Linked DNA regions of Homo sapiens: region 1 is reported to be linked to region 2. Evidence: microRNA targets listed by miRTarBase, many of them from high-throughput screens and not tested one by one. Region 2 holds a microRNA gene; the other region holds the end of a gene's coding sequence.

What was found. Region 2 holds the annotated microRNA hsa-miR-3124-3p (ACUUUCCUCACUCCCGUGAAGU, at 1,669-1,690, shown strand). A microRNA usually pairs through its seed, bases 2 to 8, with sites in the 3' UTR of a target mRNA and lowers its output. Matches are read on the target gene's strand: a 7mer-m8 pairs with bases 2 to 8, a 7mer-A1 pairs with bases 2 to 7 and ends in A, and an 8mer does both.
Region 1: the mRNA of SYNGR1 is a reported target of hsa-miR-3124-3p. Seed matches in the 3' UTR shown: 7mer-A1 at 1,223-1,229 and 7mer-A1 at 2,678-2,684.

Annotation. Positions count from the first base shown.
Region 1 is chr22:39,381,089-39,385,470 of GRCh38, forward strand. SYNGR1 (synaptogyrin 1) reads left to right here. Exons shown (of 4, transcript NM_004711.5): 4 at 608-4,382. The coding sequence ends at 826. Among named protein-coding and RNA genes, the nearest start is that of TAB1, 16 kb to the right of the region's middle. RefSeq lists a silencer at 3,696-3,990.
Region 2 is chr1:248,824,750-248,829,131 of GRCh38, forward strand. It overlaps MIR3124 (microRNA 3124), which reads left to right and starts at 1,628; the gene lies at 1,628-1,694. It overlaps SH3BP5L (SH3 binding domain protein 5 like), which reads right to left and starts at 1,166. Exons shown (of 7, transcript NM_030645.3): 1 at 1,086-1,166; 2 at 4-617. The coding sequence starts at 186. RefSeq lists enhancers at 838-897, 960-1,511, 1,268-1,527, 1,512-2,062, 1,638-1,687 and 1 more.

The DNA of each region.
Region 1 (4,382 bases), not on the chromosome of region 2:
ACAGGCATGAGCCGCGGTGCATGGCCCCCAGGCATCTTTCATTCCTACAGACTTGGCTCATGGTCTTTGTGGTCCCTTTTGGCAATTAGAGCTCCAGCCATCACATCTGTGTTCCAGGCATCAGGTCAGAGGGTGGGACAGAGAACATGAGGGTACCCCATTGGCCAAAACGTAGTCACATGGCCATGCCTAGCTGCAAGAGAGACAAAAGAATGACTCTTAGGAGATGCTAACAGTCCTTTGTCCCGCTGAGAAGCTTTTTTTAAGAAGGCTGTTGTGAGCCTTTGAGCCATCTTAACACTCCATAATGGAGATCTAGAACTTTTGGTAGCCCAGACTGACCTCTGGGATTGGGAGACAGGGGCAGGTGATTTCTGGGGTACTTTCTGGCTGGATGATATGGTTCTGGGCATTTCCGGGGGTGGCTGCGAGAACAGCCTTCCTTCTCCACAGCCAAGCTTGGTCTCATGTTTGGTGCTTTGAGGATCTTTAACCCTCTCCTGCCTGTGTCCTGTGAACTAACCACCACTAACCCAGTGCTCTTGTCTGTCTCTCCCCTAACCACCCCCTCCCGCCTGTCCTTGTCCTCGCCGGCCTTTGTCCCCAGGCGGGCCAGGCTGTGCTGGCCTTCCAGCGGTACCAGATTGGCGCCGACTCGGCCCTCTTCTCCCAGGACTACATGGACCCCAGCCAGGACTCCAGCATGCCTTACGCGCCCTACGTGGAGCCCACTGGGCCGGATCCCGCCGGTATGGGCGGCACCTACCAGCAGCCGGCCAACACCTTCGACACCGAGCCCCAGGGCTACCAGTCGCAGGGCTACTGAGCCACAGTGACCGCCTGCCCCCGCCCCTCCCCATCTGTCCCCTCTCTCCACACCCAGCCCCTGCTCCTGCCCAGGCTGCCCTGCCCAGCGCCTCATCAGCCTCTGCCTTGTCCCACTGAGGTCCAGGGTAGCTCGGGGCAGGGGTGGGGCAGTCCAGTGTTGGGGACTGTCTACGTATGTGCAAGTATATCCCAGGGCATGTGCCCCGCAGGGGCCTAGAGGGTGGGGGCCAGGGGTATTTGCATTCATACATTGTGTCATCAAGCATTCCTTGAGCGCCTACTGGGCATCCGGCCTGTGCTGGGCATGGGTGGTGACATTGGCAGAAATGGCCACTGGAAAGGGGAGCGATGAGCTGTGGAGGAAGCCCTGGTGGTACCAGAGGCCAGAATGGTGGGAAAGACAGATCCAGATAATGCTGGGAAGTGTGGCTACACCGTGGCTTGGTCATAGGGTGAGTGTAAACACCCACAGGACACTGGGGGCTGTCACCCTGCTCTGGCAGTCCTGCTAAGAGTGTCAGGGCCGTCTCCATTTTATGGTTGAGGAAACTGAGGTCTAGAGAGGTCAAGATTACTTGCCCAGAATCACTCAGGCAGCTAGTGATAGAGGTGGGGCCAAGCCCAGGCTGCCCGACTGCAGACCACGTGCTCTTCCCTGGCCACCCACCTCCTACCATCCCCACGCTTGGGGCTTCCCTGCTCAGTGTTACTGTCATTCTGGGAGGCCTTGGGGCCCTCAGCCCCTTGAGACACCCTGATTCTGCTGCATGCCAAGGGCCTGTTCTGCCCCAGCTGTTCCTCCTCCCCTGGGGACAGCCCCACCTCCGGGTCCCTCCACCCACATCCCCCTGGTCCTACCCCTGGCCCTTGGCCTCCTCCAAGAGGGCTCACCCCGGGTGCTGCTCTGTGCTCTGCGTGTCCCACAGACGCTTGTTCCAGGGGGCTCCAGCAAACCCCTTCGTGGTCTCTCAAAGGACTGATCACTGTCCTTGCCTCTAGGAGGGGTCACTAAGCCCTTACCTAGGGCTGGGTGGACAACAAGGCACAGATGAGGGTGTGACTGGCCCGAGGTCACGGTGAGTGAGTGGCAAAGCTGGCCCTGACGCCTGGGTTTCTTGGCCCCAGCTGCCCAGCAGGTGCCTCGATTCCCTGCCCTTGTGACCTCCCAGGAAACAGAACTGATCTGGGACACTATGTCACCTCTCCTCTCATCTGGGGTCAGTCAGGGTTCGGGGGCTGCAGCAGCCAAGCGCATGAGAGGTGTTTCCTTGGCCTTCCAGAAGGCCCACTGTGGAGCCAGCCTCCCTATGGGAGGCAGAGCGGCAAGGACAGGGCTTTGGAATCAGCCAGGTCGGCTCCTGGGCTGTGGCCGTGGAGAGACACTGCCCCCAGGATGACACAGGCAAGAGCCCCTGAGGCATGGGAGGCCCAGGGAAGACCATGGGCTGTAGGGGAGAGTGTGGCAGGTGACCCAAAGGCCCAAAGAGGGCCGTGGGGCCTGAGGAGGTCATAATCTCTTCTGAGTGGGGGCAGGTCGATTCTTGCACAAGGTGGGCTCTTCACTGAGCCATAAGGGACAGGGAGGTATGGGAGAGCGCTGGGGGCCCATCCCCCTGTCCACCCAGTGTCCACTGGCCTGTCCTTCAGGGAGCAGAGCAGAGCAGGTGGTGGACGGGCCCAGTGCTGGGTGTTTTCACCACCATCCCCCCATCCCCCATCTAAGAATCCTAAGAGGCAGGCGATCCCTCACCTGCTTACTCACTCAGCAGTTACCCGGCCCCTGTGCTGGAGATACCAAGGGCATGGGTGGTCCCTGCTTCGATGGCCCCAAAGCTGGGCCAGAGTTAAGGGAAAGAGGAGGAAGTCCTAAGCAGAGAAGTAGCACCATTATCCCCATTTAACAGAAGGGAAACTGAGGCTCGGCAAGCATAGGCGAGTTGGCAGTGGAACACGGATCTAAACTCAGGTGTGTCCAAGTCCTCCCAAAGGACAGCAGTGATGGAGAGGACCCCAGCCAGCTGTGTGACAGCTGGTTGTTGCTGACTTCATTTTCCAATCCGGAGAAGGGGCTCTGTCCACAGTCCCCCGCCGCCAGGTGGCCCACATGGGACCAGCATGGGGGCAGGTTATCTGTTGGCCTGAAGAGTGAAACCTGTACCAGGCCAAAGGTGAGGGCGTGAGTGAGGGCAGGAGTGTTTATGGCAGAGTGAAGTTCTGTGCCCACCACAAGAGGCTGTGAGATGTTCTGACCCTCACCCACTGTCCACCAAAAGCCTCTCCTGCTGATGGGCACTAGGAGACCTCAGGGTACTGCCCATCTGTTTCTCCTCGGGTGCCAGCCAGCTGCTGGTGATCCTCAGCCGGAGGGCAGGGTACCAGGTAAGCTTAACTCCATCTTGGGTGTTTGTGACAGGCCCTGCCTGCCACCCTAGGCAGGGAAAGCTGTCAAGACTCCTGCCAGGAATGGGGGGTGCTGAGTCATCTCACGAAGAATCCCTCACTCTTCCCGGGTTCAGCCCAGAAGCCCTTCCAGGCATGATCTTCCCCATCAGGCTGGGCTCTGGCAGGGACCTGCCCAGGATGGAGATGAGAGAGGGTGAGAGATGGAGGGCGAGATTTGGATGGGACCCAGGGCTCCTGACTCTGCCCTGGAAGGTTCATGGGGAAACTCGCTCCTTCTGTTGGCAGAGGACAGCCCCTGGGGAACCCCAGGCCCAACTCTGTCCGGTATCCCTTTTCCTCCCAGCTGCCCTCCCCTACTTCTCCCTTGCTCCCAAAGCTTTCCTTGGAGAAGGGCCCTCCTGCAGCTGGACCCTGCAGGGTGGCTCCCTCCTCCCCATCAAGCACAAGAGAGGGCCCAGGAAAAAAGGTTTCACATAAGTGTAGAGTCGCAAGGACGCTTAGAGTCGGCAGAGTCTGGGGTAGGGAGACAGCGACTTGTCCAAGGTCAAGCACAGAGGGAGAGGTTCAGGAGTCAGGTCTTCTGCCTTCTGAGTTGGCTCATCCTGGGCAGTCACAGACTGTCCTGCCTGCACGGCTCCTATCCACCTGGGGGTGTCGCAGTTGAGGGGCTAATTCCCAGGGGACTGACGTTAGTTCCCTACTCCATCCTTCCCTGGTGATTCTTGATCTTCAAAGCCTCGGGGATCCCAGGTTTCCCCATGTAACTGAGACACCCTGCCTGTTAGCCCTGGGAGACCCCTAACCTTGGCCCAAGACCCCTTTGATTCTCTAAGGAGCACGAAAGGGGGAATGCCCCTCCCAGGAGTTTATGGGAGAAGGGACTGGGCCGGCTGCCTCCCAGCGATGCACTTGACCTGACACTCCCCATGTCCTGGTGCGCACAGCCCTTGTCGGTGCCCCGGCCCCTCCCGCAGCGTTACTGCCTGTGTATAGTATAAATATATATATTTTCTATATATAAGATGTATAATATAAGGCTCCACAAATATATCTGTGTGTGTGTGTGCGTGTGTGTGCGGTGAAGGGCGGTCCCCATCCTGGGCCCCCACTCTAGACCCCCCCACCACCTGGTTAAGTCTCGAGTGAATCCA
Region 2 (4,382 bases):
CACCTGTATTCTAGGATCCAGTTCTTCCTCCTCTCTTGGGGACAATTTGGCCTCACTGCTGCTGCTTCCACCTCCTCCAGGCTCTTCTGCGACTGGGCTCCTAGGGACTTCATCCTCTACAACTTCAGGCCGCAGCTCCCCCTGTGGGGTCTCCCGCCCTCCTGGAACCTGTCTGAGCTCAGCCATGCTGACAGGGGGAGGGCAGAGCCCTATGCACAAGAGAGGACTGACATGCTGGGACCAGGGCCCCAGCTTGGGGCTTCCTGGGCTCTAGATGGCCAGGAGAAGAGTTTCTCTTCTCAAAAGGCAGAAAAGGTGGGCACAGGAAGAACCTCACACTAGGTTAGAGGTTGAGATTCAAGTTGTCAGTGGGGTTCCTAGAGCTGAAGCCTTGTCTGTGCAAAAGTTCTTCCCTTCCCGCCACAGGGAGTCCACTGTGACAAACCCGGAGCAACAGCTCCAAGGCAGGGGGCAAAGGGGGCTTGGATCCTGGACCGAGGCCTGCTAGGAGGAGCACCATTCGGGAGGGTGGAGGCAGGCGCCTCCAGGCTGTGGTGGCAGCTGGAGAGAGAAGGCTGGGCCCGAGCTGAGGCTGTAGGATGAGCGTCTCTGGGGAGCTGCAGAGAAACAAAGGCCAAGTATATGGTCATGTCAGCATCAAAACCGCAGCCACCAGCCCCTTCCAACTCTACAGCCTCCCAAAAACTACACTCTCACCACGCCCCCACCCATGTATTCCGACCAGTCCCTACCTCAACTTCTCTCCTTAGCCCTCAAGGACTTTAGATTCTACTCTTCCCCCGTCCCAGCTCCTCTCGACCCAGGCCCTCCTCAACCAGCGCCTTCGAGACTTTCCTCTGCACCCCTAGGCTCTCCTCCATCTCCTGTGGTCTCCCGCTCGTCCCACTCCACCCCAGCCCGGCTTTGCGATTCACCTTGTAACCCCGAGCCCCACCCCACCTTCTCTGTCCAACCCGAGACATCTAAGCCTCCCGTCTCCAATTCCACACTCTTCCGCAATCCCAAGGACCCTACTCCCGTCCATTCTACCCAGCCATGCGCAAAAGCCCCCCGCACAGCCTTACCTCAGTTTACCTTCCCGTCCGCGGAGCTTCTATGCTGCAAACAATCTCCCCCCCTCCCTCCCCGCAACAAGCCGATCCAACCAAAAACGACCAGGCAGACCAGAAGCGGAAATACATCATCGGTGAACAACGCTCTCCCTCCCACGCTCTCTCTCAAGCCGGGCCTCCTCGGGAGGCCTCACACTCCCCCGCCCTGCCTTCAGTTTCCGTACAAAATGGTGCCCCACGTTGCTCAGGCTAGCCGTAGGTTGCCTCCAGACCATACTCCACCAAGGCTGAATGAAAGAAAAACATGAGAATGTGGTGCTGAAGAAAATTAGGGCGCGGGACGGAAATCGAGAGTAACTGGTGAGAAGAGGAATACTAGATATAAAACGGAGATAATAGCCTCAGAGTGAGTAGTGCCATCTTGCTTTACGGAGCTGCGGCGGCGGCTGCCGGAAAGCCACTTCCGGCCTGCTCCACGGAGGCGGGCGCGACGCCGAAAGTGAGCTGGTAAACTTCCGGCAGTGGCTCCGGGGGCAACTCGAGTCCGGACGCTGGCGGGCTTCGCGGGCGAAGGCAAAGTCGATTTCCAAAAGTGACTTTCCTCACTCCCGTGAAGTCGGCGGAACCCTCCACTAACGGCGTCTGAGCGGACGGCTCCGATGTGTAAATCCCACTCCTCGAGGCCTCTGGACCTTGCACCTTGAACGACGTTTTGGTGGGGTCACCAATTGCTCCGTGAATACTAACCAGGAACTTAGTCAACATTAACTCAGTTAATTCACTCGTGCACCCAGGGTCAGATGCCCTCGATGAGCAGGAGTTTGTTACATGGCATTGTGTATCGTTACCTAGGTCCCTGAGCGAGCGCCTGCTTGTCACCTCTAGGTGTCGCTTGGTGAGGGGAGGGCCTAGGCCTAAGGGGAAGGGCTTCATTCAGGGTTGGATGTTTTGTTTTTACAAAAGGCGTAACTTCCTCAGAGTCAACTCAAAACTTTGCCCTGCAGATGGAAAAGGCAAATGGGCTGAATTCCCCTCCTTTTTGGATCCTGTCAAAGACAACCCAGCTAGACATTGAAGCAGTGAAAAAGACTTTTTTCAGTAACTACTTACAGAAAGGAAAAGAACTGACCTCTGTTCCGATTTGTACAGAAGTGACTGGGCATTTCAAAGGGAGAATGAAGGAAGGAAGGTGATCAGGGCTCAATAGTGTTGGAGAAGTGAAAAATTACAGATTTGATTGGCATAGATGCGATTCGGCCAGATGTGTCTGCTAGCTAGCAGCTATAGAAGTTAGAGTGCTTTTTTATGTATTTATTTATTTTGAGACGGAGTTTAACTCTTGTTGCCCAGGCTGGAGTGCAATGGCGCGATCTTGGCTCACTGCAACCTCCGCCCCACCCCCACCCCCGAGTACAAGAGATTCTCCTGCCTCAGCCTCCCGAGTAGCTGGGATTACAGGTGCATGCCAACACATCTGGCTAATTTTTCTATTTTTAGTAGAGACGGGGTTTCGCCACGTTGGCCAGGCTGGTCTCGAACTCCTGACCTCAGGTGATCCACCCGCCTGGGCATCCCAAAGTGCTAGGATTAGAGGCGTGAGCCACCACGCCCAGCCTAGCTTGCTATTCTTGCACTGAGATTGGGAGGTAGAGGCTCTGCCCTTCTTGACGATCAATTTCAAAGGAATGGCTCTCAGGTCCTTTAGAAGGACCTCTTGAGTTGTAGCAGACGCATAAACACCTTAAAGAGAAGAAGGAAGGATTCATAATGGTAAGCCCTTAATAAACGCCCTGAGAAAGGGAGGTCAGGAGCCTATCATCAGGTGTTGGCTAGAACAAATAGTAAATTCTCCTGGTAGCATTGAGCTTTCTCAGGCAGGCATTTTCATGGGGGAGCTGGGGTTCTCCTAGGGACATGATCTGACACTGCTAGAAGGCATGCTAAAGTTTGTCTCTTAGTAACTCAGAGGTTTGGATGGAGTCATGTGCCAAGAGTTCTACAGTTCTCAGTCCATTTCTTCTATCCCTTCATCCCATGAATAACGATTTTTTTAAATTGAGCAGAGCAAAATATATTCCTTTAAAAGAGGTGATTGAAAACAGATTTTTCCATTAAATTGGAGGTTTTGTTTTTAAAATTACAAAAGTGATTTTTCTAATTTCAATAAGTCAGCAGGACCTTGAGTAACATTGTCTAAGTGGACAGCTTTGATGGATAATAATGCCTCAGTCTTCTACCACAGTCCTTTTTATTATTAAGGTGCCATACAAAAACCATAAAAATTAAATATAAGGTGATAAACATGATTTATTTGTTGTCTACCAGTCACTTTACTTTTGTAGAACTAGAATTTCACTGTAATAACCTCATTTTACCCAGGATGTTCTGTCTACCCTAGCCTGAATTATCTAACCTTTCTTATTCAGCACTGCTCCAATACCTGTCATTCTTATACCCCATCCCATAGCTCCTTTTCTCTGTGTAATGCTTAGCAATCACAAACTGCTGCTACGTGTCACAGATCTTTGGTGGGAAAACATTATGAATACATATAATGGCCAGACCCCTAGATCACATCCTGAGATTTAGCAGCTCCTTTAAAGTCTCCACTGGCCTCTTCCAAGGTTAACTCTCACCCACTGAGACCACATGTGAATCTATCATGTATAGATTGTGATATAATCCCACAATAGTTTTTCTGCTGGGTTTGGATAATGTTTTGGGTAGGAAGAGATTGGGCGATGCTGTGCATTGATTTAACCTGAACTTGTTTATTGAAGCCAGCACAAACATGATGAATTAAAACTTTTGTCTACAGCAGCACTGTCTGAAAGACCTTTCTGCAAAGAAGGAAATGTTAATCAGCTCTGCACAGTATGGTAGTCTGTAGACACATGTGGCCATTTAGAACTTGAAATGGAGCTACTGTGATTAAGAAGTTGTATTTTTTATTTTAATTTAAATAGCTCTGTGTAGCTAGTTTCTCCTTTCCTGGACAGCACGTTTTTAGAACCTGCCTTTTCTATATAATTTCTCCAGAATACATACTGAACTTTCACATCTTCAATACAAAACAAACAGCCTCTCAGTCTCCACTATCATTTGTCTTTTCTCCACTTCCTCCCTTCCCATTCACCCCTACAGTCTGGCTCCGGATGCTGCCAATTCATAGGAATTACAAAGATAAGGTCATCCATGCTCTCAATATTGCCACATCACTGACATCTGACACTGGGTTATTTCTCTCTTTTTTCTTATCATTTAGCTTCTGAGTCACCCTGGTACTGGGTTTCCTCTTCTCTGGCTTGT